Homo sapiens: one gene and its partners. The protein of the gene in region 1 purifies or fractionates together with the protein of each later gene. This does not show direct contact. Each region holds a gene or a part of one and is shown in the gene's direction. Other genes may lie near its edges.

What was found.
Region 2: the proteins of PLD2 (region 1) and TTC1 purify together in Homo sapiens (affinity purification with mass spectrometry, with the first as the bait; one large-scale study listed by BioGRID). This does not show direct contact.
Region 3: the proteins of PLD2 (region 1) and DDI2 purify together in Homo sapiens (affinity purification with mass spectrometry, with the first as the bait; one large-scale study listed by BioGRID). This does not show direct contact.
Region 4: the proteins of PLD2 (region 1) and DNAJA2 purify together in Homo sapiens (affinity purification with mass spectrometry; 3 studies listed by BioGRID and IntAct, with this or other methods). This does not show direct contact.
Region 5: the proteins of PLD2 (region 1) and TOMM70 purify together in Homo sapiens (affinity purification with mass spectrometry, with the first as the bait; one large-scale study listed by BioGRID). This does not show direct contact.
Region 6: the proteins of PLD2 (region 1) and VBP1 purify together in Homo sapiens (affinity purification with mass spectrometry, with the first as the bait; one large-scale study listed by BioGRID). This does not show direct contact.
Region 7: the proteins of PLD2 (region 1) and KIFBP purify together in Homo sapiens (affinity purification with mass spectrometry, with the first as the bait; one large-scale study listed by BioGRID). This does not show direct contact.

The regions. Positions count from the first base shown.
Region 1 is NC_000017.11:4,816,632-4,820,930, forward strand, and holds part of PLD2 (phospholipase D2), read left to right. Parts: coding exon 1-115; intron 116-305; coding exon 306-424; intron 425-444; coding exon of another isoform or gene 445-514; coding exon 515-628; intron 629-1,370; coding exon 1,371-1,475; intron 1,476-1,665; coding exon 1,666-1,754; intron 1,755-1,862; coding exon 1,863-1,976; intron 1,977-2,142; coding exon 2,143-2,192; intron 2,193-2,452; coding exon 2,453-2,587; intron 2,588-2,797; coding exon 2,798-2,951; intron 2,952-4,299.
Region 2 is NC_000005.10:160,032,553-160,036,962, forward strand, and holds part of TTC1 (tetratricopeptide repeat protein 1), read left to right. Parts: intron 1-2,587; coding exon 2,588-2,648; intron 2,649-4,138; coding exon 4,139-4,251; intron 4,252-4,410.
Region 3 is NC_000001.11:15,651,373-15,655,782, forward strand, and holds part of DDI2 (protein DDI1 homolog 2), read left to right. Parts: intron 1-333; coding exon 334-523; intron 524-4,410. UniProt on the Homo sapiens protein: Aspartic protease that mediates the cleavage of NFE2L1/NRF1 at 'Leu-104', thereby promoting release of NFE2L1/NRF1 from the endoplasmic reticulum membrane.
Region 4 is NC_000016.10:46,959,602-46,964,011, reverse strand, and holds part of DNAJA2 (dnaJ homolog subfamily A member 2), read left to right. Parts: intron 1-4,410. UniProt on the Homo sapiens protein: Co-chaperone of Hsc70. Stimulates ATP hydrolysis and the folding of unfolded proteins mediated by HSPA1A/B (in vitro).
Region 5 is NC_000003.12:100,394,116-100,398,525, reverse strand, and holds part of TOMM70 (mitochondrial import receptor subunit TOM70), read left to right. Parts: intron 1-4,410. UniProt on the Homo sapiens protein: Acts as a receptor of the preprotein translocase complex of the outer mitochondrial membrane (TOM complex). Recognizes and mediates the translocation of mitochondrial preproteins from the cytosol into the mitochondria in a chaperone dependent manner.
Region 6 is NC_000023.11:155,236,537-155,240,887, forward strand, and holds the end of VBP1 (prefoldin subunit 3), read left to right. Parts: intron 1-2,235; coding exon 2,236-2,306; 3' UTR 2,307-3,305; downstream 3,306-4,351. UniProt on the Homo sapiens protein: Binds specifically to cytosolic chaperonin (c-CPN) and transfers target proteins to it. Binds to nascent polypeptide chain and promotes folding in an environment in which there are many competing pathways for nonnative proteins.
Region 7 is NC_000010.11:68,991,803-68,995,302, forward strand, and holds part of KIFBP (KIF-binding protein), read left to right. Parts: exon of another isoform or gene 1-66; intron 67-3,500. UniProt on the Homo sapiens protein: Activator of KIF1B plus-end-directed microtubule motor activity. Required for organization of axonal microtubules, and axonal outgrowth and maintenance during peripheral and central nervous system development.

The DNA.
Region 1 (4,299 bases):
CGCCCAGACTCACCAGCCACCCCAGACCTCTCTCACAACCAATTCTTCTGGCTGGGCAAGGACTACAGCAATCTTATCACCAAGGACTGGGTGCAGCTGGACCGGCCTTTCGAAGGTGAAGCCTCCCACCCGCCAAAGCCCCAGAGAGCTGAGAGCAGGGTCAGAAGCTGGGGCTGGTACTGAGAGTGGGATGAGAGGGGTCAACGGTGGTACAGCCCTCCCTCTGGCAGGCTCTTTCTCCCTGCCCCAAGTGTCCCAAGGAGTCCAGCCCTGACATCTCCCCTGACTCTCCTGGGACCCCCCAGATTTCATTGACAGGGAGACGACCCCTCGGATGCCATGGCGGGACGTTGGGGTGGTCGTCCATGGCCTACCGGCCCGGGACCTTGCCCGGCACTTCATCCAGCGCTGGAACTTCACCAAGGTGTTCATTCCCTCCGATAGGGGCTGGAGGTAGGGAGGGAGCCAGGGCAGATTGGCACCTCCTGCTGACTCTGCCATCCCTCCACGTCAGACCACCAAGGCCAAGTACAAGACTCCCACATACCCCTACCTGCTTCCCAAGTCTACCAGCACGGCCAATCAGCTCCCCTTCACACTTCCAGGAGGGCAGTGCACCACCGTACAGGTGAGGCCCCCCACTTCAGCCAGCCCTCCCCTTTGTCTCCTTCAGCCTAACACCCCAACCCACTCTCCCTGGTGTGAGAGCTGCCCACACTCTCCTTTCCTGGGGTTAAGAAGCACATCACGGCCAGGCACGGTGGCTCACGCCTATAATCCCAGCACTTTGGAAGGCCAAGGCAGGCGGATCACAAGGTCCGGAGATCGAGACCATCCTGGCTAACATGGTGAAACCCCATCTCTACTAAAAATACAAAAAATTAGCCGGGCGTGGTGGTGCGTACCTGTAGTCCCAGCTACTAGGGAGGCTAAGGCAGGAGAATCGCTTGAACCCAGGAGGAGGATGTTGTAGTGAGCTGAGATCACGCCACTGCACTCCAGCCTGGGCAACAGAGTGAGACTCCATCTCAAAAATAAAATAAAAGGCCAGGCGCAGTGGCTTACGCCTGTAATCCCAGCACTTTGGGAGGCCGAGGCAGGCGGATCACGAGGTCCGGAGAGCAAGACCATCCTGGCTAACACCATGAAACCCTGTCTCTACTAAAAATACAAAAAATTAGCCGGGAGTGGTGGTGCGTACCTGTAGTCCCAGCTACTTAGGAGGCTGAGGCAGGAGAATGGCGTGAACCCAGGAGGAGGAGCTTGCAGTGAGCGGAGATCATGCCACTGCACTCCAGCCTAGGCAACAGAGCGAGACTCTGTCTTAAAAAAGAAAAGAAATGAAGCACATCGCATTCACCATTCCCTAGGTCTTGCGATCAGTGGACCGCTGGTCAGCAGGGACTCTGGAGAACTCCATCCTCAATGCCTACCTGCACACCATCAGGGAGAGCCAGCACTTCCTCTACATTGAGGTCTGACTGGGAGGAGGTGGGGGAGAGCATGGAAGGGGTGTCCCAGGAGAGAGACCTGGGGAATGAGTGGAGTCAGTCATTGAGGGCTGGTGGAGCAGAAGCAGACGCCTGGAGCCTGGGACCAAGGCTGGAGGCCGAGGACAGGGCCAGGGGCCAGGCTGCTGATGTCTGTCTCTGATTCTTGCCCCAGAATCAGTTCTTCATTAGCTGCTCAGATGGGCGGACGGTTCTGAACAAGGTGGGCGATGAGATTGTGGACAGAATCCTGAAGGCCCACAAGTAAGGTGGACTGTCAGGAAGGTGGGGACTGTGGGTGTGGTTTGAGCCCGGTTGAAGGGGGTGGGGTTTGAGGGACCAGTCGCACCTCTGACTCCACCCCCTCCCCAGACAGGGGTGGTGTTACCGAGTCTACGTGCTTTTGCCCTTACTCCCTGGCTTCGAGGGTGACATCTCCACGGGCGGTGGCAACTCCATCCAGGCCATTCTGCACTTTACTTACAGGTGACCCCCCAGGCGGACTCCAGCTCTCAGTGGCCCCATCCCACCCGTGTCCCCCTCCTGATTCTGTCCTGATCCCTTCCTGCTGGGCCTTAAAGAAGGGCCACCTCTCCTGACCTCCCCTCCCCTCTGCCAGCCTCCACTTCTCTCCCTCTTTCTTTTCTCTCAGGACCCTGTGTCGTGGGGAGTATTCAATCCTGCATCGCCTTAAAGCAGCCAGTGAGTGCTGGGGGCTGGGGGCTCAAGCCCTGGGCCCCTGGGAGAGGGAGATTGGGGCGCTGCAGGCCTGGGGGTGGGGGAAGGAGGCTGTCACTCCTGTGAGCCTCTGACGCTACGCAGACCATAGCTGGCCTTTCACTGCAGGGAGAAGGAGAGAGACCAGACTCTATGTAGGAAGAGTTTCTGGAGTGAGAGGAGGTGGGACAGGGCCCTGTGCACACAGAGCCACCTCTCACCTCACTTCCCCTCCTGTCACGCAGTGGGGACAGCATGGCGGGACTATATTTCCATCTGCGGGCTTCGTACACACGGAGAGCTGGGCGGGCACCCCGTCTCGGAGCTCATCTACATCCACAGCAAGGTGCTCATCGCAGATGACCGGACAGTCATCATTGGTCAGTGCCGGATCTAGTCCTCTGGCAGGGAGAGGGTGTGGGGACAGGCGAAGAGATGAGAGGCAGGATGACAGAGACTGCAGCTGAGGCTCGTGTAGGGGTGGAGGGTCCAAGAAGGAATGTTGCAGGCCAGTGCTTTGGTAGAGGGGATGGGGTACTGGGGAGAGTGCCCTGGGCCCAAGCACACAGTGTGCCCCGCATCCACCCCAGGTTCTGCAAACATCAATGACCGGAGCTTGCTGGGGAAGCGGGACAGTGAGCTGGCCGTGCTGATCGAGGACACAGAGACGGAACCATCCCTCATGAATGGGGCAGAGTATCAGGCGGGCAGGTTTGCCTTGAGTCTGCGGAAGCACTGCTTCGGGTAGAGCTGGGGCGGGATGCCACAGGGTGGGAGGGAGATGGGGGCGTCTGCCTTTTGAGCAGGACAAGAGGTAGCACCGCATAGGTACTCCCGGAGCCAGAGGTAGAGGCAGTACTAGATTCTCAATAGGCAAGGCTGGGCGCGGCAGCTCACGCCTCTAATCCCAGCACTTTGGGAGGCCAAGGCGGGTGGATTGCCTGAGGTCAGGATTTTGAGACCAGCCTGGCTAACATAGTGAAACCCGTCTCTACTAAAAATACAAAAAATCAGCTGGGTGTGGTGGCGGGCGCCTGTGATCCCAGCTACTAGGACTAATCAGTTTAGAGTATCAGTAAAGCAGGAACACCAAAAAACAAAAAGAGAAAAAAATCTTTTTTTTTTGAGACGGAGTTTTGCTCTTGTTGCCCAGGCTGGAGTGCAATGGCGAGATCTCAGCTCACTGCAACCTCTGCCCTGGGTTCAAGCGATTCTCCTGCCTCAGCCTCCCGAGTAGCTGGGATTACAGGCATGCGCCACCACGCCCAGCTAATTTTGTATTTTTAGTAGAGATGGGGTTTCGCCGTGTTGGTCAGGCTGGTCTCGAACTCCCGACCTCAGGTGATCCACCCACTTCAGCATTCCAAAGTGCTGGGATTACAGGCGTGAGCCACTGCACCTGGCCACGAAAAAGAAATCTTTTTTGTTGTTGTTGTTGTTGTTGTTGAGACACGGTTTCACTCTTGTCGCCCAGGCTGGAGTGCAATGGCACGATCCTGGCTCACTGCAACCTCCGCCTCCTGGGTTCAAGCAATTCTTCTGCCTCAGCCTCCGGAGTAGCTGGGATTACAGGCGCCCACCACCACGCCCAGCTAATTTTTGTATTTTTAGTAGAGACAGGGTTTCGCTGTGTTGGCCAGGCTGATCTTGAACTCCTGACCTCAGGCTTCGGCCTCCCAAAGTGCTGGGATTACAGGCATGAACCACCGCCCCTGGCCAAAAAAAAAAAAAAATCTTTTTTTTTTTTCTTTTTTTTTGAGAGGGAGTCTCACTGTCGCCCAGGCTGGAGTGCAGTGGCGCGATCTCGGCTCACTGCAGGCTCCGCCGCCCAGGGTTCATGCCATTCTCCTGCCTCAGCCTCCCGAGTAGCTGGGACTACAGGCACCCGCCACCTCGCCCGGCTAATTTTTTGTATTTTTAGTAGAGACGGGGTTTCACCGTGTTAGCCAGGATGGTCTAGATCTCTTGACCTCGTGATCTGCCCGCCTCCGCCTCCCAAAGTGCTGGGATTACAGGCATGAGCCACCACGCCCGGCCAAAAAAAAAAAACTTTTGTGTTTTGTTTGTTTGTTTGTTTTCTTTTTGAGACGGA
Region 2 (4,410 bases), on another chromosome or scaffold:
CCAAGATCTTAAATCTAGATTGAGTGAAGCAAAGACAATGGAATGGTTAGAGTTGATTTGCTGTCATTGCAGCCCTGTCCTGGCAAGTCTTTCACTAAAAGACATGCATTCTGCTTCTTAACAGAGCCTCCTTGAGTTCTACCTGCTTTCTTTTTTTTTTTTTTTTTTTTTTTTTTTTTTGAGACGGAGTCTCACTCTGTCGCCAGGCTAGAGTGCAGTGGCGCGGCCTTGACTCACTCCAGCCTCCGCCTCCCAGGTTCGAGTGATTCTCCTGCCTCAGACTCCTGAGTAGCTGGGACTACAGGCGCCTGCCACCACACCCAGCTAATTTTTTTTTTTGGGGGGGTATTTTTAGTAGAGACAGGGTTTCACTATGTCGGCCAGGATGGTCTCAATCTCTTGACCTCATGATCTGCCTGCCTCAGCCTCCCAAAGTGCTGGGATTACAGGCGTGAGCCACCACGCCCAGCCAAGTTCTACCTGCTTTCTAAGCCTATTCGTTAAGCCTCTCACTGATTCTGTGAGCACTGATACCTTGCCAGTAAACCTGCCCCCTAAAGTTTTTTGCTTAAGATAGTCTTTTGCTTGCATCCAGTAACCCTAATCAATACAGTAGAGATCATTACAATCTAAGCATCTTTCTTATGGGTAGTACTAGGTAAATATGGCCATATTCTTATATTTTATTTTTTTCTGAATTCCTTTAGAATAGCCCTTCCCTCAGATACGTTATATCTTAAAATGAATTGTTATTTGTACCTGCTGTGTGTCTGGCACATAGTATGTACCATAAAAATTAGATTCACTCTATACTTACCTTTTAGTTTCCTCACTGAGATTCATCAAGTGCTCTGTTTAATCCATAGTGTAATAATAAGACATTTGGGAAATACCCGGTCTCATCAATAGCATATTGACAAATCTTTTCCAGAGAAAGAATGTTTTTATTTTGGTTCCTGTATTAATCCATTTTCACACTGCTATTAAGAATTGCCTGAGAGTGGGTGATTTATAAACAAAAGAGGTTGAATTGACTCACAGTTCCACATGGCTATAGAGGCCTCAGGAAACTTAACAATCATGGCGGAAAGTGAAGAGAAAGCTGATGGTTTTAAAGTGTGGCACTTGAAAACCATCAGTTCTCATGAAAGTGAACTCACTATCATGAGAACAACATGGGGGAACCGTCCCCATGATCCAGGGTCCGTCCCTTGACCCGTGGGGATATTTGGGTAGGAACACAGATCATATCAGTTCCTCATGTTAAAAGGACCAATTGTTTAGGTTCCAGGCTTCTCTTGTGCATGAAATACCCTGCTAACTGTATTTCCTCCCTTTGAAATTACTTAATCAGAATGCTAACTGTATTTCCTCCCTTTGAAATTACTTAATCAGAAGCTTCAAGAAGGAGGAAAGAGCCCAGCACAGTGGTGTGCACCTATAGTCCCATCTACTCAGGAGGCTGAGGCAGAAGGATCACTTGAGTCCAAGAGTTCAAGGTTATAGTGTGTGTTGATCACATCTGTGAATAGACACTGCACTCTAGCCTGGACAACATAGTGAGACCCTATCTCTTTTTTTTTTTTTTTTTTTTTAAGGGACTTTGGTAGATTTTCTGTTTTTGGGGTTTTTTTGTTGTTTTTGTTTTAAAGCACTGTCAAAAGGTGGCAGGCATACAGACTCTTCTGGTTTGGCTTGTGCCAGTTATATTGTTAAGATGTTCCACAAAAAAGTGCACACACTCAGCATGCGTCTACTTTGCTTTGCAGGATAACATTCTCTCAGCCTTTGTGTTTGATGAGTTTTTGGCCATCTATGTGAGTTTCTGAGTTGTTTGAATAAGCTAAGAAAAGACAGACTTATTTATTTAGGTTTCTTCACATTTTCCTATGTTAACCTGCTAACAGTATACTGCCCTAACCCTACAGACTTGGCTTGTACCCACAAATGTGCTCTCCTAGCATACTGTGTCTCCTTCATGACACAAACCATGAAGGGTTCTTATAAGGATTAAAGTACTTATTTCACAGAAAATAATAGCTTATTTATTGAGCCCTTATTTGCTAGTCACTGTATGGGCAGCTTTATGTATATTATGACATTAATCCATTAAACAGTAGTCCATAATACTATTAAAGCTTCATTTTTGAAATGAAGAAACTAAGGCTCAGAAAGATTCTGAAACTTGTCCGAGGCCACATAACTAGTAAGTACTAGAAGCTACAATTTGAATTTACACTGGTATGCACACCAGTGGGTATGTTATTTAGTTTCATTTCTGAGTAAGTAGAAATTAAGTGATACTGTAATTATCATTCCATTGCAAAAGATAGAAACATAGAAAGCAAAGGACATGCCAAGAAGACCTACATTTTTTGTTTTAAACATCAAGAATGCAATTGATAATTAGCCTGATGGTCATGTGTTTTTTTTCCTCTATCACTGTACAAGGTTTTGGTGAAACTGATGCAGTTCTCAAAAGTCAGACTGTTGCCTATTAAATAGACTTGTGCATAAGGAAAGCTCACCTTTTTGTTCACTTATAATAATATTGTGAGAAATTATGTAATTCTCTGATGTCTTTCAGAAAAGAAGAGAAGAGAGCACTAGACTAAAGGAGGAGGGAAATGAACAGTTTAAGAAAGGAGGTAAGACGACTTTCAGCACTGATAATCTGGTCATCTTGACTCCTCATCCTGTTGTAGAGTCTGTGAAGAAACCCCAAAGAACATCTGAAGAAACCCCAAAACCAGACTTCACAATACAGTGTTGCTTCCCAGTACCTTGGCATTTTGAGTTTTTAACCAGGCCAAATTATTCATCTGATGGTGACCAGTTACCATTTGTCTCTTGGCACATGCATAGTCTTTCTGTAATCCACTATCTGTTAGTCTAGAATCAGGGGTAAAACTCTTGAGCTCTTGCTTTGGAAAACACTAACCTGGAATATTAAAGGTTATGTGCTGCATTGCTGTGAAAGCAGAGTCGCCGCTCCTCACTTGCTGTGGGGCTGTGAAAGCAGCCTGACTGCTCTGGTATGGCCTAGGGCTGCCTGTCCTTTGGTTGCTCTTTCTTTCTTTCTTTCTTTTTTTAAATTCTCCAAACTGCTTCAGAAAGGTTGCTCTTTCATGTGCCATTTTCTTTGGATGCCTTAAGTAGGGAGATTCTTCATGTCCTTCTGCATTTTCTACATTTGCTTAGAAATAAGTTGGTGGGGTTCATTCTGATAATTTGGGGTAACTATTTGATCTTAGAGCAAAAGTCTTCTGTCACATCTTAAAGTGTATATGCTTCAGAAATCTAGGAGTGTTAACATTTTCCGCTAGTTATTTTCAGGTTTTTAATTTTTTTCTTATTGTTTTCCAAAAGTTACCCTATTACCTGATTTCAGATTTTAGGGTTTTTTTTTTTTTCCTATATCTTGGTTTAGTAATCATTAATACTGTTTTCTAATAGAATAAACACTTCTAATTTTGGAAGCATATTTTTTGTATGTTAATATTAAATATTTCAAACCTGAGAAAGGAGTACATAGGCAATTTTCTATTAGTATCCTGACCATAATTCTCTTTTTCACCATTTTCTCTTTTAAGGTCTTGATTTAAATATTGATTTTTACATTGTTCCTTTTAGCTCTATCAAATGTCTCTCTTCAAACATTTCACGGATGCTGTTTTAGCCAGGTTGACTGTATGAAAGCACAACAGATTTAATGAAAACAAATATGTATAATTTTTTTCTTTATCTCAGGCCATGGATCCCAGAGTTTAGTCTCTTTCCTCTGTCCAGTTCTGTAACCTCCTTTGAAAACTCCTTTCTGAATTGCCCAGCCAAATGAAAACTGAACATTGAGGGAATGCCAGGACTCCTGAGTATTGAGGGCTTGTCACTGACAGCATGTTCAGCTGTCAGTTCACCAAGCACAGCCTGTGAGATTGGCACAAGCAAGCACTGTTCCTTTAAAGAGAGAAGAAAAGAAGAAATGATTTTTACTGCGCCAGACTTAATAGACTGTTACCATCTTTTAACTCAAAACCTTCATCCTATGAATGGAAAACAGTGCTTCTGAGATCCTGTGGAATATAGTAGTATCAGGAATAAAATCAAAATGACCATTCATCCTTTCTCTTATCCTCAGATTATATAGAAGCTGAAAGTTCTTATAGTCGAGCCCTCGAAATGTGCCCATCCTGCTTCCAAAAGGAGAGGTCGATTCTATTTTCAAATAGAGCTGCAGCAAGGATGAAACAGGTATGTATCTGTGACCTTTTCTTTTTAAAAAGCACATGGACTTGCAGTCTTTTCATACCATAGTTTCTCTCCAGAAACTAGCATAGAGGTTGCTGCCTCCCTTTTCCTGCCCATATATTTCCCTGATGTAAAGGCCACAGGGAGAATAGAAAATCTTTT
Region 3 (4,410 bases), on another chromosome or scaffold:
GCGTGGCACAATCTTGGCTCACTGCAACCTCTGCCTCGCAGGTTCAAGTGATTCTCCTGCCTCAGCCTCCCAAGTAGCTGCGATTATGGGCATGTGCCACCACGCCTGGTTAATTTTTGTATTTTTAGTAGAGGTGGGGTTTCACCGTGTTGGCCAGGCTGGTCTGGAACTCCTGACCTCAGGTGATCTGCCCTCCTCAGCCTCCCAAAGTGCTGGGATTACAGGCATGAGTCACCGTGCCTGGCCATTTGTGATTGGAGTTTTAAATTAAGGAGCATAATTTTTCTGCATGGTGTTTTATCTGCTATTATTCTTTGGTTTCTTTCTTCCAAGTGTTCCATCGACCTGAAGAAAAATGTACTCGTGATCGGCACCACAGGCTCCCAGACCACCTTTCTTCCTGAGGGAGAGCTACCAGAGTGTGCCCGGTTGGCATATGGGGCTGGAAGAGAGGATGTACGGCCAGAGGAGATTGCAGACCAAGAATTAGCAGAAGCCCTTCAAAAATCAGCAGAGGATGCAGGTATTTGGGATGGCCAAACTCTTCAATACTTGTTATTGATGGGTAAGCCCGGGAAGTGTGGGCTTCAGAAGGGGTAGGAACCTTTCCAGTTTTTAATTAGTCTCATGGTCCAGTAGTAGATGTGTTCATTATTTGTCTTCTTAACCTCCTTCTTTGATCTTCCTTTTTTTTTTTTTTTTTTTTTTTTGGAGACATTGTCTCACTCTGTCACCCAGGTTGGAGTGCAGTGTGCAGTGTGACATGATTGTAGTTCACTGCACCCTTGACTTCCTGGGCTCAAGCAGTCCTCTCACCTCAGCCTCCTGAGTAGCTGGGACTACACCTGGCTAATTTTTTATTTTTAGCAGAGATAGGGTCTTGCTGTGTTGTCCAGGCCTATCTCCAACTCCTGGGCTCAAGCAGTCCTCCTGCCTTGGCCTCCCGAAGTGCTGGGATTACAGGTGTGAGCTACCATATCCAAACCCCATCTCTTAATACAATAATGAAAAAGTCTGTATTCTGGCCCGGCGTGGTGGCTCACGCCTGTTAATCCCAGCACTTTGGGAGGCTCCGGAGGGGGGGGGGGGGGGGCGGATCACCTGAGGTCAGGAGTTTGAGACCAGCCTGGTCATGGTGAAACCCCATCTCTACTAAAAATATAAAAATTGGCCAGGCGCGGTGGCTCACGCCTGTAATCCCAGCACTTTGGGAGGCTGAGGCAGGTGGATCACGAGGTCAGGAGATGGAGACCATCCTGGCTAACACGGTGAAACCCCGTCTCTACTAAATATACAAAAAATTAGCCGGGCGTAGTGGTAGGCGCCTGTATTCCCAGCTACTCAGGAGGCTGAGGCAGGAGAATGACATAAACCCAGGGGGCGGAGCTTGCAGTGAGCTGAGATCGCACCACTGCACTCCAGCCTGGGTAAGAGAGCGAGACTCCATCTCAAAAAAAAATAATAATAAAAATTAAAAAAAAATTAGCAGGGTGCAGTGGCACACCCCCCGTAACCCCAGTTACTTGGGAGGCTGAGGCAGGAGAATTGCTTGAACTTGGGAGGCGGAGGTTGCAGTGAGTCAAGATGGCACCACTGCACTCTAGCCTGGGCAACAGAGTGAGACACTATCTCATAAAAAAGAGAAACATTCTGTTTTTTAGTATTTCAACAGATTAAGAACAGCTCAGTCCATTGCTGTGTTTAAGATAGATTGGGGTTATTTTGCTTAGACACATTTTAGAAGCTTCCTAAATTTTTTTAGGAAGTTTTTTTTGGATGTTTTTGTTTTTGTGATTTTCCTAAAGAAAATTTTGACAGTAAGCAGATGTTAACTTTTGAGTCCAACAGTATTTCCCTATTTCTTTCCTTTTCTTAGGACTGTTTTATTTTATTTTATTTATTTTATTTTATTTTATTTATATAGACAGAGTCTTGCTCTGCTGCCCATGCTGGAGTGCAGTGGCGCAGCCATGGCTCACTGCAGCCTCAGTCTCAGTCTCACAGGCTCAAGCAGATCCTCTCGCCTCCGCCTCCCAAAGTATTACAGGCATGAGCCACCATGCCTCTTAGGCCTGGTTTATTTTGAAAAGTATCATTGCTACTGTGTGTGAGCAGCCCTAACTTCACCGAAGACAGAAGAACCAACAAAAAGAAGTATAAATTTTTATTTACTTAATTAAAAAAAAAATTTTTTTTTGAGACAAGGTCTTACTCTGTCACCCAGACTGATCCTCCCATCTCCCCTTCCTGACTAGCTATGACTACAGGTGCCTGCTACCATGTCCAGCTAATTTCTGTATTTTTTGTAAAGATGAGGTTTTGCCATGTTGCCCAGGCTGGTCTTGAACTCCTGGGCTCAAGCAATCCACCCGCCTCAGCCTCTCAAAATGACAGGATTATAGGAACGAGACACCATGCCTGACCAGCATAATTGAACGTTACTGAAAATGCAGTGTTATGGTGTGAGATTACAGTATTGTCATCAGGCCATATTAGCACTGTATATATTGAAATCATGCTACCTAATACTTTTTTCTAAGTCTCAGTTATTTAGCTTGTTTAAATGTAATGATGGAGCTAAGTTTTCTAGGTAAAATGGGGTAACAGTTTTGCTGAAATCCCCCATTTATTATAGAACGGTGACTCTGGGATGTATTTTCTAGAAGCTGAATAGAATTTACTTTTGAGTTTGGGTTATTTTACAGTCTTGTGCTGGCATTATTCATCAGTATGACTAGTATCACACATTGCTTTTTCTAGTACAGTAAATTATTAAGAGTTACAAGTTCAGGGAATAGCTTTATCCTAAAGACGAAAGTGGTAAGAGTTTTAAAAACAGCCAGGCAGCTTTTGCCACTGTTTTACTGGAGAACATTCAGATGTCTGTCATTGAGCTTTAGAATGGGTGTGGGTGGCAGATGGAGTTTTCCAGGTTGACTTTGTTCAGAATCAACTCCATCACCTTTTGGCTTAGTTTTATGTATAAAGTACAGTTTGAGTCAGGGCGTGGTGGCTTATGCCTGTGATCCCAGTACTTTGGTAGGCCAAGGCAGGACGACCACTTGAGCCTGGGAATTTGAAACCAGCCTGGGCAACATAGTGAGTCTTTGTTTCTACAAGAAATTTAAAAAAAAAATTAGCCAGCCATGGTGGCGCGCCTATGGTCTCAGCTGTTTGAGAGGCTGAGATGGGAGGATCACCTAAGCCCAGGAGGTCAAGGCTGCTGTGAGCCATCATCGCTGCCACTGCAATCCAGCCTGGGTGACAGAGTGAGATCCTGTGTCCAAAAAAAAAAAAAAAACAACAGAATTGACTCCCATCACTTTTTGGCTCAAGTTTTTATATTAACTACAGTTTTGGTTGTAACTTAAGTATTTTGTAGGAAGGGAGGAATTTTGAACAACCAGACAGAGACTAACTTAATAGTTTTAATCTTACCTGCAAGGTAAGCTTGAATGAATTTGACATAGCTCCTTACAAGGTTTTGCATTTGGGGTGTAATTTATCATCTTAGTCGTGATGCTGTGTGTTAATATGAGGATATATTATCATTTTATGAAATGTCTTTTTTTTTTTTTTCCTTTTAACCTCCACAGTCTTGGTGCCATTATTTAAGAAACATTAGCTGATAATAGCAGTGTTTTCTAACCTACTAATAACAGTTATCCTTTTTTGGTAATTACCTTATTTTAGTAAAAGTTTGGAAGATTAAAACAGATACACATATGTTTCCAGGCTTAGTGAAGGGGATGTACCAACTTCAAAGAATTAAAAAGAAATGGCTTTTTACCTAAATAACCTTTTGTTGCTGGTAGTATAGCTTGTGCTAATTTTTGTAATGTTTAAGTAATGAAATAATTCTACATATCAGGTCCTTTTTATTTAGAACATCGACTTCCTAATATCATCCGAATAAATACTCTGGACATAGTAGGTGAAAGTATTTTGTTAACAACTTCTTTCTGGCCAAGCATGGTGGCTCATGCCTGTGGTCCCAACACTTTGGGAGGCTGAGGTGGGGAGATCACTTGAACCTATGGATTTGAGACCAGCCTGGGCAGCATGGCAAAACACTTGTTTCTAAAAAAAAAAACCACGGCTGGGCGCAGTGACTCACGCCTGTAATCCCAACACTTTGGGAGGCTGAGGAAGGGTGGATCACCTGAGGTCAGAAATTTGAGACCAGCCTGGCCAACATGGTGAAACCTCATCTCTACTAAAAATACAAAAATTAGCCAGGCATGGTTGTGGGCGCCTGTAATCCCAGCTACTCGGGAGGCTGAGGCAGGAGAATTGCTTGAAGCCGGGAAGCAGAGGTTGCAGTGAGCCAAGATTGCACCACTGCACTCCAGCCTGGGCAACAGAGTGAGACTCCTTCTCAAAAAAAAAAAAAAAGAAAAAAAATTAGCC
Region 4 (4,410 bases), on another chromosome or scaffold:
CAGCCTCCACCTCCCAGGTTCAAGCGATTCTCCTCTGGCCTGGTCATTGACTAACACTTTAACCATAGGTAATCTTACTGTCTCAGTTTCTTTGTTTATGAAAATAAGGGCACTGGGTGTTGGACCAGTTGATCTAAGGCAGCCTGTATTTTCACTGTGAAACTCTGCTGCTCTGTCGATTTGGTTTTTACTTATTGGGTACCCAAGTGAGCTATCCTTGAAAGGGTTCTGGGATTTTTTTTAAAAAAAATATTTTTTTAGAAGCTTCTGAAGAATGTGGTCACTAGTGTATGTTTTGGGGGGTTTTTGTTTTTGAGATGGTCTTGCTCTGTCGCCCTGGCTGGAGTACAGTGGTGTGATCTGGGATCACTGCAACCTTCGCCCCTGGGCCCAAGCAATCCTCCCATCTCAGCCTCCCAAGTAGCTGGGACAACTGGTGCACCATCATGCCCATCTATTTTTTTGTTTGTTTGTTTTTTGGGGTTTTTTTTTTTTTTGTATTTTTAGTAGAGACAGGGTCTTGCCATATTGCCCAGGCTGGTTTTGAACTTCTGAGCTCAAGCGATCCTCCTGTCTCAACTTCCCAAAGTGCTGGGATTACAGGTGTGAGCCACAGTGCCCAGCCTAGTGTATGTTATTTTGATTTTAACATTGCACTTGTATATTTTTAATGTCCATATTGTATACTGTAGACCCTACTCAAAGAATAAATCTGGAACTATTCATGAAAAACCCCTCCAGTAATCACCTAAATTCTTGAATGTTAGAAGCACTTGATAGGACTCTAGCTTTGTACTTGATCACATTTACTCATGTGTTCCTCTGAAAATCATTACATCACAGGTTAACCACCTTTTTAGTTTGCCCTAAAATTTTCTCCTATGCATAAGCCCAATGAACACGGAGAAATGGTAAATTTGTATTATGTTCAGTGAAAGGTTATTCTTTTTAATTCTAAAAAGGTGGGCAAGCTGATTATCATTTATAATTTAAAGGTTATATTTGATAAAGAAGGAGATCGTCCTTCTGTGGTGATCATTTCTTCAAATAGAGTAAATTTTAAAAATCACTTTAAGAATCCAATAGAGAACAACAAAGCCATATTGAGATGCAGGTTTTAGGAATTTGGTAGTAATCCCTCACAAGGTCAGACTTGATCTCCTGGACAATCAGGGCATGCTAGTCAGCTTTCATGACTCAGCAAAGCTACAAATTATGTATTTTGGCTTTTTGTGGAAATTGCCAACCCTACAGATAGCAAACGTCTCCTCGGTTGTCAAAAAGTAAGAGTAGTTTTTAGAATTCTGCCTTTGGGTCTTGTAGAATGAAATATTTACAAGATTTGCTATTTGTTAACATTTTAGCTACTTCCTTGTTCCTTCAGTCTTGCTGCTGTGCACACCACCATACCAGGAATATGAGGGAGAAAGCTAGCAAGACAGCTAAATAATTGGAAATTCTGCTTGGAGGTTAGACTGTGTTGTAAAATGGTACAGACAGTGCCTGGGCATTTTCATTGATAGAATCCTTGGAGTCGTTTGGGGTTCGTTGTCAAATGATGTCTGGCAGTGCAGCAGCATGATAGGAAGTGAAGAAGGAATGCTTATTTGCAGAGGAAGGATGACTTTTTTTTGGTTTGAGGCATGTCAAACTGATGGTAAAACCTTTTTTATCCCTAAGTTTAGTTTTTAATGTTGCTGCATAATTAAATTGGGTTTTTAAAAGTAGATCATTGGATTTGGAGGCAAAGGACTTAAGGTCTGGGCCCCGTTTACTAGCTTTGGCTTCCCTGGACTTTTTGGATATTAAAGAGTCAAATGAGATTATGAATAAGCTTCTTTCTTGGGGCCTGTGGGGAGGTGTTGGGAAGTAACTCATCTCTGAAAATTGTTGGCAGCAGTGGAATTGGCATGGAATTTTCAACAGAAGGCAGATGTAGCTAGTTGTCTAAAGTAGAAAATAGAAGATGGTAAAGGTTAGAATGGAAGTTTGTCTCGTTCCTTCTTGGGAGTGCTGTATCATCTATAGTCATCATCCTGCCATGTCACTTGTCAGTGTGCCTGTTTGTGTGTCTCGGTGGTCTGGTTACCATAGTGCACTTGTACAGCATCAAACCACAGAACCTGGTGATGTTAGTCACGCCTCTATAACCTGTACTTTTGTTATTCAGAAATATGACTTCTAAGTGTTTTCTGGTCTAGTGCTTGGTGGTCCCTCCTCATTAATCTTGTTTTTCAGAAACTCTCTGGCATCCTTGCTTGTTTATTCTGTTTAAACTTTTAACATCAAATTGTTTAGCTTCCCCGCTCTGCTGCAACAACCATCCTGATAATCATAATCATTTTTTATTGAAATCACTTTCAGTTGAACTCTCCTGTACAAGAACGTGATGTGTATCTCTTCCTGTTCCCTTTTCTTTTTTTTTTTTTTGAGACAGTCTTGCCCTGTCACCCAGACTGGAGTGTAGTGGCGCAATTGTATTTTTAGTAGAGATGGGGTTTCATCATGTTGCCCAGGCTGGTCTCAAACTCCTGACCTCAAGTGATCTGCCTACCTCGGCCTCCCAAAGTGCTAGGATTATAGGTGTGAGCCACCGTGCCCTGCCCCACTTTTTATTTTTGTTTTTATTTTTGAAATGGGGTCTCACTCTGTCACCCAGGCTGGAGTGCAGTGGCGCGATCTCTGTTCACTGCAACCTCCACCTCCCGGGTTCAAGTGATTCTCCTGCCTCAGCCTCCCAAGTAGCTGGGACTACAGGCTCATGCCACCACACCCAGCTAGTTTTTGTATTTTTAGTAGAGACAGAATTTCGCCATGATGACCAGGACCTCAGGTGATCCACCTGCCTCAGCCTCCCAAAGTGCTGGGATTATAGGCATGAGCCACTGCATGCATCCTAAAATAGTATGACTTTAACAAAGGATATTTGGTAAGATGGTTCTTAGAACACTGGCATTTTACAGTATACTTAGCATTTATTTTAAATTTATTATTATTATGTTTAAGAGACAGGATGTCCTTCTGTCTCCCAGGCTGGAGTGCAGTGGCTGGATCATTAATGAGGAGGGACTGCCCCTGCAGGCTCCAAATCCTGGGCTCAAGGGATCGTCCTGCCTCAACTAGCCTAGTTTATGTTTTAATTTTTTGTCTCCCTATGTTGCTGTTTTGAACTGGCCTCCCAAAGCTCTGACCCTATATTTAGCTTTTTTAAATTTTTTTATTTTTTTCTTATTGAGATGGAGTCTCGCTGTGTCGCCCAGGCTGGAGTGCAGTGGTGTGATCTTGGTTCACTGCAGCCTCCGCCTCCCAGGTTCAAGTGATTCTCCTGCCGCAGCCTCCTAAGTAGCTGGGACTACAGGCGCGTGCCACCACACCTGGCTAATTTTTGTATTTTTAGTAGAGATGGGGTTTCACCATATTGGCCAGGCTGGTCTTGAACTCCTGACCTTGTGATCCGCCTGCCTTGGCCTCCCAAAGTGCTGGGATTACAGGTGTGAGCCACTGCACCTGGCCTACTTAGCATTTTTAATGCGTTGAAAAATCCTGCATTAAAAAAACTATTGGTCCCATTGTGAGGAACACTTGAATATATGTGCATACATAACATACCTTCTTGGATCTCAAACTTTAGCACACACACAAGAATTGCCTGGAGGGCTTGTTAGGACTACAGATGCTGGATCTTGCCTGCCTTGTTTCTGGCAGGAATGGAAGTGGGGCCCAAGAATATGTGTTCCTAACAAGTTTCCTGAAGCTGCTGGTCCAGAACCACACTTAGAGAATCATTGGTTAAGGTAATGGTTTAACTTTGTTTAATGAGTAAATTTAGGAGAGTAACATAGGAAAAGAACCTGTCTACCAGATTTTCTATAAGTGAACCGGCCAGGATTGTTCTTTACAAGAAGAGTGACCATTGTAAAATCTAAGCAAAAATTGCAGGTTGGGCGTGTGAAGTTGGATGTATTTTTCCTACACATTGAAGGCTCAGAAACATTCTTTGTGCTTATTCTCAATACCTTTTGCATTACCTAGTCCATAGGCTTATAGTGTAATATTGAATGAGCCAGTTTTGCATTTTAGTGAGATGTGAGACTTGTTGGTATGTGTGTGAAGCACGGAATTGAGCCACTTGACTTTGCTGGCTGGGTGTTAACTGGTTGATGTTGGGTTTTATGTTGATCTTGGACCCTCCCCCCTTCCCTGTTACGATCATGTCTGGGGAGCACTCCAGGGTGAGCCTGTTCTGTAGGAGCCCTCTGGGCATTCTGTACCTTTTTCACCAGAGGCAGAGTCTGAAAGTGGGCAATAGTTGCAGAATATACCTGGCACTGTTTTGAGGGCCTCAGTTCTGTTGCTCTTATATATGCCATTGTTTACCAGTTCCAGTACACCTTCCTCATGGAAGTTTCT
Region 5 (4,410 bases), on another chromosome or scaffold:
TCTATTTCGTTTGTTAATTTAGTTTTAATCATGGAAGAATAGTAGGTAAAATAAAAGATCCAAAAAGTTCTCAGTTCTGTAAACATTAAAAATAAAGATAGTTTCTATACATGAAACTAAATTTTTTTTTTTTTTTTTTTTTGAGACAGCGTCTAACCCTGTCACCCAGGCTGGAGTGCAGTGGCACGATCTTGGCTCACTGCAACCTCTGCCTCCTGAGTTCAAGCAGTTCTCCTGCCTCAGCCTCCTGAGTAGCTGGGATTACAGGCATGCGCCACCATGCCTGGCTAATTTTTGTATTTTTAGTAGAGACAAGGTTTTGCCTGGTTGGCCAGGCTGGTCTCAAACCCCTGACCTCAGGTGATCCACCCACCTCGGCCTCCCAAAGTGCTAGGAATTACAGGCACGAGCCACCTCACCGGCTGAAACTAGATTTTAACATTTCATTGTGGTTTCAGCCACCCCACCTCATCCCAGGGGATCTGTACCATTGGTATTTGATAAAACCTAGCCATCTCCTTTTCACATTTTAGATGTCCTAATTCCTCTTTTCCACGTTGTCTGGATCAACACTGATGATTTTTTAATTTCATGATATTTCAGAGTTTTTTAGTTTTACAAATAACTTTTTTTTTTTGATACGGAGTCTCACTCTGTCACCCAGGCTGGAGTGCAATGGCGAGGTCTCGGCTCACTGCAACCTCTGCCTCCTGGGCTCAAGAGATTGTCCTGCCTCAGCCTCCCAAGTAGCTGGGATTACAGGCACGCACCACCACGCCTGGCTAATTTTTGTATTTTTAGTAGAGACAGGGTTTCACCATGTTCGCCAGGCTGGTCTCAAACTCCTGACCTCGTGATTCACCCGCCTTGGCCTCCCAAAGTGCTGGGATTACAGGCATGAGCCACTGCCCCTGACCACAAATAACTTTTTATTCACCTGACTGCTGTTAAAAATTAGAATTTAAGATTGGACTCTTTGTGTAACTTAAACTGCTTTAAAATGATTTATTTTTGGCCCCAAATAAAATAAGGCAAAACATTTGCACTTACCATTGTCCATCTTGTGGAATATGTAGGCCTACACCTGTAATCTTTGAATTACTAGATTGTTCTTTGGTAAAGCAACAATAGGAAGGTCTTTGTGATTTTTTTAAACTGGAAATTTATATCTTAACTGTTGGTGACCAGTAAATATTGAAAGACTACTTTTGTCTTCTTTTAATAGTCTGGTCCTTAGAGTTATTATTAGACTATCTAAATGTAATTAATTGATCAGTAATTGTAATTTCTTATCTGTGGTTGGATAAACTGCTGTACATTTGAATAGCACCTCTAAATTGGCATCCTCGGTGGATTTCGCAACCAGAAGCATTTGCTTTCACTGATGGAAACCTGGCAGAATCCTGATGCCCTAACTGTCCTTTCTCCACCTGAGCAATAGCTACAGTTTTTAAAGGAATGAATAAATAGACAAATATTGTCTGTTTAGGGTTTGATATCAGAAAATAGAATGGAAAATCTGTATTTTTGTCTTTTGGCTTATGTTTACCTTAATGTAAAATGATCTGATAGAATTACTGGACTTCTGTCTATTGGGTTGGAGATTTTCCTTTACAATTAGTGTGCACAATTACCTTTTTTCTGGGATAGCAAAAACTTGTAAAGGAAGTGCAAAGGATATTCATAGTTGTTTTAATTAATGGGAATATTGGGGTATCACTGAAGAAAAGCATTTAGTCACAGTTGATAGTGTCTAAGACTGAGGTGCTTAAAGTATTAGATCATATTCCATTTTGAACTATTATAAAATCTACCATGATGTGCCATTTTGCTTCAGTAATTTTTTTAAACTTGAAGAATTAAAAAAAAATTTTAAATTGCAAGGCTTTTTAGAAGATCATATTATCCATAGTGCTTCTCAATCTGTGGGCTTGAGTCATCACGAGGGACCACCACACATATATTCCAAGCATGGTATCCTGGCTGTACCAATGTCCCAGATACTTCTTTTTCAAACATCCTGTGATTTTCTAGAAAAATGCACTTATTTAAAAGCATTATTGACTTCATTGTAACTTTTTTGTCCAATTGTTATTTAATCTGATGATAAAAAATGCATCATTCTTGTGTTCATATTTAGCATTAAATATGTTTAGCCCATGAAATGAGTTTAGCCCACATGAAATGGTTAGGAACCAATAATCTAAGCCAGCCTACTACAGTAGGAAAGGGAAGATGTACCTACACATTTTAGTAAAGGGTCGAGGACTGCATAAACTGTTGTTATTGGTCATCTTGTTTGAAATGAAGTCATTCTCTCCCCCAAATGATCTGTTTTGAGTCATTTTTAAAAAATCAATCAGGGACACCAATGACATTCCCTCTAAGCTTAGTTAACACTTTTCAATCTTAATCCTTGGCAGTATTTCATATTGTGCTCTAAATGTCATAACTTTTCCTGCTGCTTCTGAGGTACTCCATTTTCCTGATTTAAAAAAAAAAAAAAAAAAACCTGATACCAGCCTCATGGATTCTTAGTCTCCTTATCACAATACAGAGGTCATTTCATCTTTTCTGAAACTTCTCTCTACCTAAGCACACCACTATGTGATTTTATAACACCCTGGACTTTTCCATTTTATAGCACTTACCACGTGGTACTAGAATTGCTTATTGCTGTTTCCTGCTATGCTCTTGAATCTGTGAAGGCTGAGACTGGCTCTATCTTGTTCACCATTGTATTGCCAGAACCTAATACAGGTGCATAGCAAGTGTTGAATGAATGAAGTTTCATTTTTTGACTAATAATTAAGGGTTCCTTTGACATCCCTAAGTTTATATTTTATATATGTGTGTGTGTATGTATATATAAATTTCACAAGTGGTATATTTTTCAAATTTTCCAGCTCTTCATTTTTGTTCTACCAGTTAATGCTGGATTCCGTGGAAATCTTTTTTCCTTTCTCTTTTTTTTTTTTTTTTTGAGTTGGAGTCGCGCTCTGTCACCCAGGCTGGAGTGCAGTGGTGCAATCTCTGCTCACCGCAACATCCGCCTCCTGGGTTCAAGTGATTCTCCTCCCTCAGCCTCCTGAGTAGCTCGCCACCATGCCTGGTGAATTTTTTGTTTGTTTGTTTTGGGTTTTTTTGTTTGTTTTTTGAGATGGAGTCTCACTCTGTTGCCCAGGCTGGAGTGTAGTGGCGCAATCTCGGCTTACTGCAACCTCTGCCTCCCGGGTTCAACCGATTCTCCTGCCTCAGCCTCCCGAGTAGCTGGGATTACAGGCGAGTGCCACCACACCCTGCTAATTTTTTGTATTTTTAGTAGAGACAGAGTTTCACCATGTTAGCCAGGATGGTCTCAATCTCCTGACCTCATGCTCTGCCTGCCTCGGCCTCCCAAAGTGCTAGGATTACAGGCGTGAGCCACCGCGCCTGGCCGTAAATCTTAAACCTCATTTGGGCATACTTTTTGTAAATCAGTTGATTATGCATGACCTACAATCATAATCCTGCAGAAGCAGTCATTATAAAAGTATATTCTTCCTAGGTAAAGAGTTATTATGATTTAGTAGGTGGGGTTGGTTGTCATTTTTAAAATTTCCAGACGTGAAATGGGAAAGGACTTTTTTATTATCTTAGGTTTTATTCCTTATTAGGTTTGAATCCTTATTATCTTAGGTATTATTATCCTAGGTTTGATTCATATGAAAGTAACAATTGGTTGGCCAGGTACAGTGGCTCACACCTGTAATCCCAGCGCTTTGGGAAGCTGAGGCAGGTGGATCACCTGAGGGCAGGAGTTCAAGACTGGCCTGGCCAACATGGTGAAACCCCATCTCTACAAAAATACAAAAATTAGCCGGGCATGATGGTGGGTTTCTGTAATCCCAGCTACTCAGGAGACTGAGGGGAGAGGATCACTTGAACCCGGGAGGTGGAGGTTGCAATGAGCTGAGATCCTGCCATTGCACTCCAGCCTGGGTGACAGAGCAAAACTCTGTCTCAAAAAAAGAAAGAAAGTAAGTAAGTAACAATTGGTCAATAAGTATTGAAACATTGTTTCTCATACAGTAAGTGTTCCAGAGTTATTTAGGTTGCAGTGAGTGGACATCGTGCCCCCCTGGGCGACAGAGCAAAACTCTATCTCAAAAAAAAAAAAAGAAAAAGTAACAGTTGGTCAATAAGTATTGAAACATTGTTTCTCATACAGTAAGTGTTCCAGAGTTATTTGCTACTTCTATAAAGCTGTGATTCAAGTATAATATATGCTTTTTGAGTTTGAGAAATTTAAAACAATAAAACCATTTTAAGAGAAACATCAAACCATCTCAGGTATATTTTAACTGGGTATAAGTGTGTCATCATGGTGACAAATTAATACCCATTTTATTTTCTCACACGCAGATTAAT
Region 6 (4,351 bases), on another chromosome or scaffold:
CCTTTGTAACAAACCTGCACATCCTGCACATGTACCCTAGAACTAAAAAAAAATTAGAATACAAAAAACCTCCCACATTCTTTCTTACATTGCTTTAGTGGGAAGAATTTCCTTATTAGGCTAATATAAAGGTTATAGATTTTATAAGATAATAAATAAGATATTCGGAACTAGTACTTAAATAAGTTTGTAGATAGATTAGTGATTTTGAAATGTGATGTGGAAACAGCAAATTCACATAGGTGAGTAAGTATTTTTCTTCCAAATATTTTCCCAAGACAACTTTATAACTGGTTAAATAGTTTAATTTCACAAGCATTTAAGGGTCTCCTATGTTCCTGCAACTGTGCTAAGACATATGGGGCATGAAAATCAATTTTAGAAAAGAGTGGCAGTGCCTTTCTCTGGTAGAACTGTACATGTAAAACAGCTGAATGATAATTCATAGCAAACTATAAGTAAGTTAACATATGCAACACCAAGGCAATTTAAACTTTGGGAAAGATAGATGTAGGCTGGACTTAGTTCAAAGAAGGCTTTGTTGAGAAGATAAAAGTTAGGCTGCTTTTTTAAAGGCGGCGTAGGGTTTAAAGATCAGCAGAGAGAAGAGGTGGGAGTGGGGTATTCTGGTCAAGGGGGAAGGCAAGCTCTTTGCCTTTCTTCTCTGGCCTGTCTTTTCCTCCTACTTCCTGTCACAGTCACTCAAGACAAAATCACGGGAGTCACCTTTCACACTTCTCTCTTCCTCACTACCAATAATAAATCAGTCGCCAGATTCACATCAAATTTCCCTCATAAATCTCTCTGCCCATTACTGTTCTCGTTCTGGGGCTCCAAAACCTGCACTCAGAACCTTTTTAGGTTCCTCTCATTCCATCTGTCCTTCCCACTATCTCTAGTATGAATTTACTAGGTCACTCATTTTTATTCCTCTGGTTACAATATTTCAACGGTTCCTTGTTACTTACAAGATATACATATAGGCACTCTTGTGAAGTGCCCCCAGCTTGTCTCACCTCATGCCACTGACCTCTTCTTGCCTTTCCCCAGTGCATTCCAGGTTCCAGATAACCCCAGTCAGTTATTGTACACACTCCCCAATTGTGCCACACCCTTTGCATTTCTACACTTTGTTCCTCCTAACTGGAATGACTTTCCCATATTTACAGGATGTGCTCTTTTTTTACCCTTTTACCCTAAATATCTCAGTCCAAGCATCAGAGCTTTCCTGAACATTTTCTGATCCTCAGAGTGTTTCTTGTGTGCTTGCTTAACACATACTGCTTAGTTTTACCTTGCCAAACCGTGAGCTCTTCAGATGTAGGAGCTGCACTTTCTCTTCTTTTCCAGTGTGCAGCATGTGGCAGTTGTTTATGGTTGGCTGAGGGAAGGCAGGCCTGTTGGGGCCTAGTGCAGTGGTCATCATCATCTGACGGGTAGTGTGGAAACTTCATCCAGCTATGAGATGACGAGGGCCTAGGACGGGTGGCTTGTGGAAAGGAAAAGATATTAAACGTGTGAGAAAAAAACAGGATCCAGTGACTTAGATGGGTACAGGAGCCAAAAGTGAGGAAATCCTCTAAGATGAGTCCTACAAGCTTAGTTAAATGCCATTTGTTATTGCTAGTACTGCAAAAGGTAGGAAAGGAAGGTGTGCAGACAAGTGAGGGAGCTAGGGTGGACAGTCTCTGTTACATTGACATTCTACTGGAGTCTAAGCTCCACGAGGAAAAGAACTTCACCTGTCTTATTCAGGTCAGGGCTTTGTACAGTGCCTAGTCAAAAATACAGTAGATGCTTAATAAACTTGTTAAGCCAAAGGGAGGGTAAGAGATAAAATTATTGATAATTGTAATAATATAAATATTACATGGCAGGATATGGGTTGAGTGATCTTTCAGATTTCTTGGATGAGGGACTGTCTTTAAAACTATCGAGAGTGTCTAGTACATATTTGTTAAATATATCATAGTTGACTAGCTGACAGTTGACTAATACCATAGTAAACAATGGGTTAACAATTAATTTGAGTCCTTAGTTTTGATAGAGTTTAATTATAGTATTTTCCTAACAATTGACATTATAGCAGGATGTCTTACAATACTATTTGTTACCAGTATTTGTATATGTTTCATTTCTGTGTCTTTGATTCATTGTGTGAGTGGAGTGAATACTTAGTCATTGCATGCATTATCTTTAGAATTGCATTTGCATTTTCTTTGACAATTCTTGCAGATATGGCCAGGGTTTATAATTGGGATGTAAAAAGAAGAAACAAGGATGACTCTACCAAGAACAAAGCATAATGCTGGCAATTAAAAATGTGGTTTAGTTTTCCAAACATGTTATCTTAAATACCCCTTTATCCTTACAGGTTGACATAACTTTGAATGTTTTAACAGCAAGAATTTTAAGAAAAGATAAACACCATTTTATTTATTTATAAAAACAAAATTAGTTTCAAATATTTTTGACATTGTGATTTTTTTTTCCACATTTCTCAGCAAAGCTAATGGTATTTTAATCATTATTTTTGCCTGTCATAAGAAAACTCTTAGCTGAAATGGCCGAAAACTGTGAGACATGCTATGGAAGCTGAATGCCGGACGCTAGCACAGTTTACTTTTTCCCTTTCTAATTGGCTGATGTTACTCTCACTTGATGTGGTTAAACCATTTTAGAGGTAGAGAAGACAGACAGTTTGAATATTTGTAAACTTGTTTTTCTTTGGTATATTTAGGACTTAGTGGTCCTCTGTTGCTATTGTCTTCTATAAGTGGAGTTTCATGACTTACTGCTTAACGAATAACTAACTACTATGATATTCTGGACATTTTAGGAAATGGTAATTTGCCTTGCTACACATTAAGAGGGCTATTAAGACTACATTTTTTCTAACCTCAGATAAGTGCAGTGTCTTTGCAATGCCAACATAAGGGAGATCTTGGCCAACGTGAAATAAAATTACTCATTCAAAACTCTGCCTAAGGTGATTTTGTAGTTCTTAACAGTTCTCCAGAGCATCTTGAACAGGAATATTAAGATAAATGTGAATCTGCAATGGCTGAAAAGAGTTGTGAGCTTTTTTATTCATGATAAAACCTTATAGGAATAGTATAAAAAATCCCTGTGGAAAGCTACTAGTACATTGACCAGCGCTGGGTGATACAGATTCTGATAAAAACATAAATGTATTAGTTCATCTCCATGTAGTAAAAAGTATACTTATACAATGTTTTGTACTTGTATTTCATGAAATTAAAACAGTGATGCTAAAACTATGGCAGAGCACTTTTTTCATGTTACTCTTTGTCTTACTATGTTTGGGCTGCTATAACAGAATACCACAGAGTGGGGGGCTTATAAACAGCAGAAATTTATCTCTCCCAGTTCTGGAGGCTGGGAAGTCCAAGATCAAGGTGCTGGCAGATTTGGTGTCTGGTAAGGGCTGTGTCCTGGTTCGTAAACGGCACCTTTTCACTGTGCCCTCATGTGGCAGAAGGGGCAAGGAGCTCCCTTGGGCCTCTTTAATTTGGCACTAATCTCATCATGAGGGCTCTGCCCTTATGACCTACTCACCTCCCAAAAGCCCCACCTCCTAATACCATCACCTTGGGGGTTAAGATTTTAACATAACAATTTTGGGGTGACACAAAGATTCAGACAATAACACCTTTTTAAAGTTAACATGGGTCTTTTCACGTATTTGTAAAGTTTACTTGTACATATACTAGCATGTTCCAAGAACAACTTATATTTCTAGAAACACCATAAAATCCCTGTGGAAGGAATACAGATCTGCAAACAATTGAGAAGTTCATTGAAAAGATAACAGAATTTCCTTGATTGAATTTTTCTTTCATAATTTTAAATTCTCATATTTTAGAATTTGAGGTTTGTAAACATCTTGAGATATTGTATGTGCTCATTTTCCCCAAACTTTGTTATGGTAAGTATATATTGGTATGAAATGTTCCTGTTAATGTTAGAACAGGAATGGTTTGCTCCGAAGATCTTCATTTTGTCTTTGAAAGTATAAATATGGATTTTTAGGTAATTACAAGGACTATGAAGAAACAAAACTCTTTCGAGATATGAATTACAGGCCAAAAATTAAGGTAATTATTTAACATATTTAAAAACACCCATTATGGGTCAGGAACTGTGTTAGGCTCTGTTAATTAAATAAAGATATTTAAATCTTACCTCTGCCAGATAATTTCTGTTAGAGTGGTTTACATTTTCAGAATAACATAACCATCCTGATTTGACATATTTTGAAGTTTAATATTAGTATAGCGTACTAGGAGAGGATATGGGCAAAAGATTGACTACAGAACTTGATGCTGAG
Region 7 (3,500 bases), on another chromosome or scaffold:
TAGTTTTATGCTCCCACCTAAAATTTTTTCACTATTTTTATAAGATGTTAATTTCTTGAGTACTTTATTTATAACATGCCTGTACCTTGGGTAAACCAAGTAAACTTTTTTTTGTCTTAGGCAAAGTTTAGACTGTTCGTATGATGATACACTTTCTTTTTTATGTGGGTTTTTTTTTTTGCTTGTTTTTTATTTTTATTTTTATTTTTGAGACAGAATCTTCCTCTGTTGCCCAGGCTACATAGCAGTGGCACCTTCACAGCTCATTGCAACTTCCACCCTCCTGGCTTAAGCGATCCTTCCACCTCAGCCTCCCAAATAGCTGGGACCACAGGTGCCTGCCACCATGCCCAGCTAATTTTTGTATTTTTAGAGAGACGGTGTTTCACCATGTTGCTCGGGCTGGTCTCGAACTACTGAGCTCAGGCAATTCTACCCACCCCAGCCTCCCAAAGTGTTGGGATTACCAGTATAAGCCACTGTGTCTGGCCTTTTAAAAATTTTTGCATGACTTTTCATCTTTTTATGTGTGTTTCCCATTTGTTTGATATGAGGGAAAAATTTCTAATAGCTTGAGAATCAAGGGGATGGGGATTTTGGTTGTAGGCATTTTATAATAATTAACCCCTTAGCAGTGGTGTAGAAAAATAGGTAAATTTTTTGTTTCAAGACTTAAAACTACCTCAAGAAGAACAATCTAATGTAACAGTATTTGTAACGCTTCCAGAGGTCTCAGATGAGGAATTTTTTTGTAAATGGTTTGGAAGAAGATTAAAATATCCTGGGTTAGCGTAGTAACATTACGGTAGGATCCTTAGGTTGATGCTGACTTTTGTTTGGGGTAAGTTTATATTTTGTGTGGTGTTTATTTACTTTTTTTGAAGAGGAGGATGTAGTAGGAGCAGTGTTACAAATCAGTTTAAGTAATGGAGTAGACCCTGTTGTCAGTGGGGCATAGATGAGTTATGAGGGCTAAAGCTTGCTCTGATGGTCTCTTTTTGTTTTGTTTTCTTTGCTTTTATCTTTTGTTTTACATTTGGGGAGGGGAGAGATTTTCCATTAAGGAAGGTTATTGCTAGTGGATTTGATTCCAAGGGTCTGGGGTGTCACAGTAGGGTTGGGGAGGGGCTGCAGGGTGATCCTTGGCTACTGAACCTCCACAGAGAGCATGTGGTGCCCCTGCCCTTTCAAGATAATTTACTCTCTTGTTAGTTTTGCAGGCCACCTCAGATTCTCTGTTGAATTGCTGTTAAGAAATACAGACCAGTGTTGTTTCTGGGCTCTCGTTGGGTGAGGTTTTCCTGAGTTTTATGTCTCTTCTTAGTTCACATCGTGTTACCCAGAACACATGCTTCACTGTCTTCTGAACAGGCAGTACTCCTGTGGCTCTGTGTCTTGGCTTGTTTAGTTTTTTTCAGCCTTGAAGGCTCCTTCCCACACTTACTGACATCCACTCATGTTCCTGGTATGACCTGGATTGCTGCCTGGTCCCTGCAACCTCCCAATGCCCTTTCTGCTGCATTCCCAGAGCACAGGACTTTTCTCTTTTCTACTGACCTTGCTTGGTTCTCCCTTGTGGGTTAGTAATTTCTGTCTGTCTCTTTGCCCCTCACTAATTGTTCACCCATGAGAATTAGGTATTATTCCTTTTAAATATACAGGGACCATATAGTCTTTATCTTTTATACATGATACTTATTACTCAATTTTGTGTGTGCAAGGTATCTGGCACATGGACCTGTGATTAGTAGCCTGAGGTCAACAAATCTCAGTTAGAATGCGTAGGTTAAACAAAGCTTTTTTTTTTTTAAATTTAATTTAATTTTATCTTTATAGAGATGGGGTCTCACTATATTGACCAGGCTGGTCTCAAACTCCTGGCCTCAAGTGATCCTCACATCTCGGCTTCCCAAAGTGCAAGGATTATGGGCATGAGCCACTGAGCCCAGCCTAAACAAAGCTTTTAAAAGCTCCTGCAACCTCAAGGTTGTTAACCTGGTCATCTCATGGTAATTAGAAACTCTGATTGGCTGCTTTAGATTTCTTGATTAAAAACCTAAGTAAACTGATTAAGTTTTAGGCATTCTTTCAAAGGTTTCTCAGTGAAAAGATTGGGAACTATTCTATTTGGTGCTTTGTGAAAATATTTTGAATTAGTATATGTGCCAGTTATTGCCATTTCTTAAGTCCAAAATGTTTTTCTGGTCAAATAAATAGCAGTTTTTCAAAAACAAAAATTAGCTGTGTGTGGTGGCATGCATGTGTAGTCCCAGCTACTCAGGAGGCTGTGGGAGGACTGCTTAAGCCTGGGAGATCAAGGCTGCAGTAAGCTAAGATGGTGTCACTGCACTCCAGCCTGGGTGACAGAGTAAGACCCTGTCTCAGAAAAAAAAAAAATTTATAGAATGATCCTATTTTTGTATAAGACTAAGTATACACACACACACACATACTTACATTATATATACACATATAGTAAAAAGTTTATATACATGTGAATATATACAAATACGTATGTATGTGTGTGTATATGGAAGAGTTTTGCAAGTATCAGTTAATGGGAATTCATGATATTCTAACTGCTTTGTCTTAATCTGGTGTATTCTCCTTGGGGAACTACAGAACTTGGCTCTATATTATTTATCAAAAGAGATTGATATTACATTAGATTATCAAGAGATTTCTGTCTTCTCTGGGTTCCAGTGCCTTAGGAATAATTTTTATCTGGTATTCCTTCTGATCCTTGTTATCACCAGTACACACTGGCACTACCATCTTGATTACTTCACTTTAGTAAAATTTCCTAGGAAATTAGTAGATTGCTGTCCCCACTCCAGGTTATATATGTATAGGAGTACTTTTTGTTGTTATTGTTCACAGATTCATTGAGTTGCAATTGGCATATAATAAACTGCACATATTTTTAAGGGTACAGTTTGATGAGTTTTGACATATATATTTATACCTGTGAAACAATCACTGCAATCAAGATATGAACATATCTGTCACCACCAAAAGTTTTCTTGTGCTCCTTTGTAGTCCCTCCCTCTCTCCTATATTCTTTTCCTCCCTTCTGCTTGCCCCCAACCCTGCATTTTGTAGAATTTTATTTTATTTTAGAGACAGGGTCTTACTATGTTGCCTAGGCTGGCCTCAAACTCCTGGGATCATGTGAACCTTTCACCTCAGCCTCCTGAATAGCTGGGACTATGTAGAAATTTTATTTTATTTTTGAAGACGGGGTCTGGCTCTGTCACCCAGGCTGGAGTGCAGTGGTGGGATTTCGGCTCACTGCAACCTCTGCTTTCTGGGCTCAAGCCATCCTCCCACCTCAGCCTCCTAAGTAGCTGAGACTACAGGGTCACACCACCACGCCCAGCTAATTTTTGTATTTTTTGTAGAGGCAGGGTTTCACCATGTTGCCCAGGCCTCAAGTGATTCGCCTGCGTTGGCCTCCCAAAGTGCTGGGATTACAGGTATGTGCCACTGTACCCAGCCTA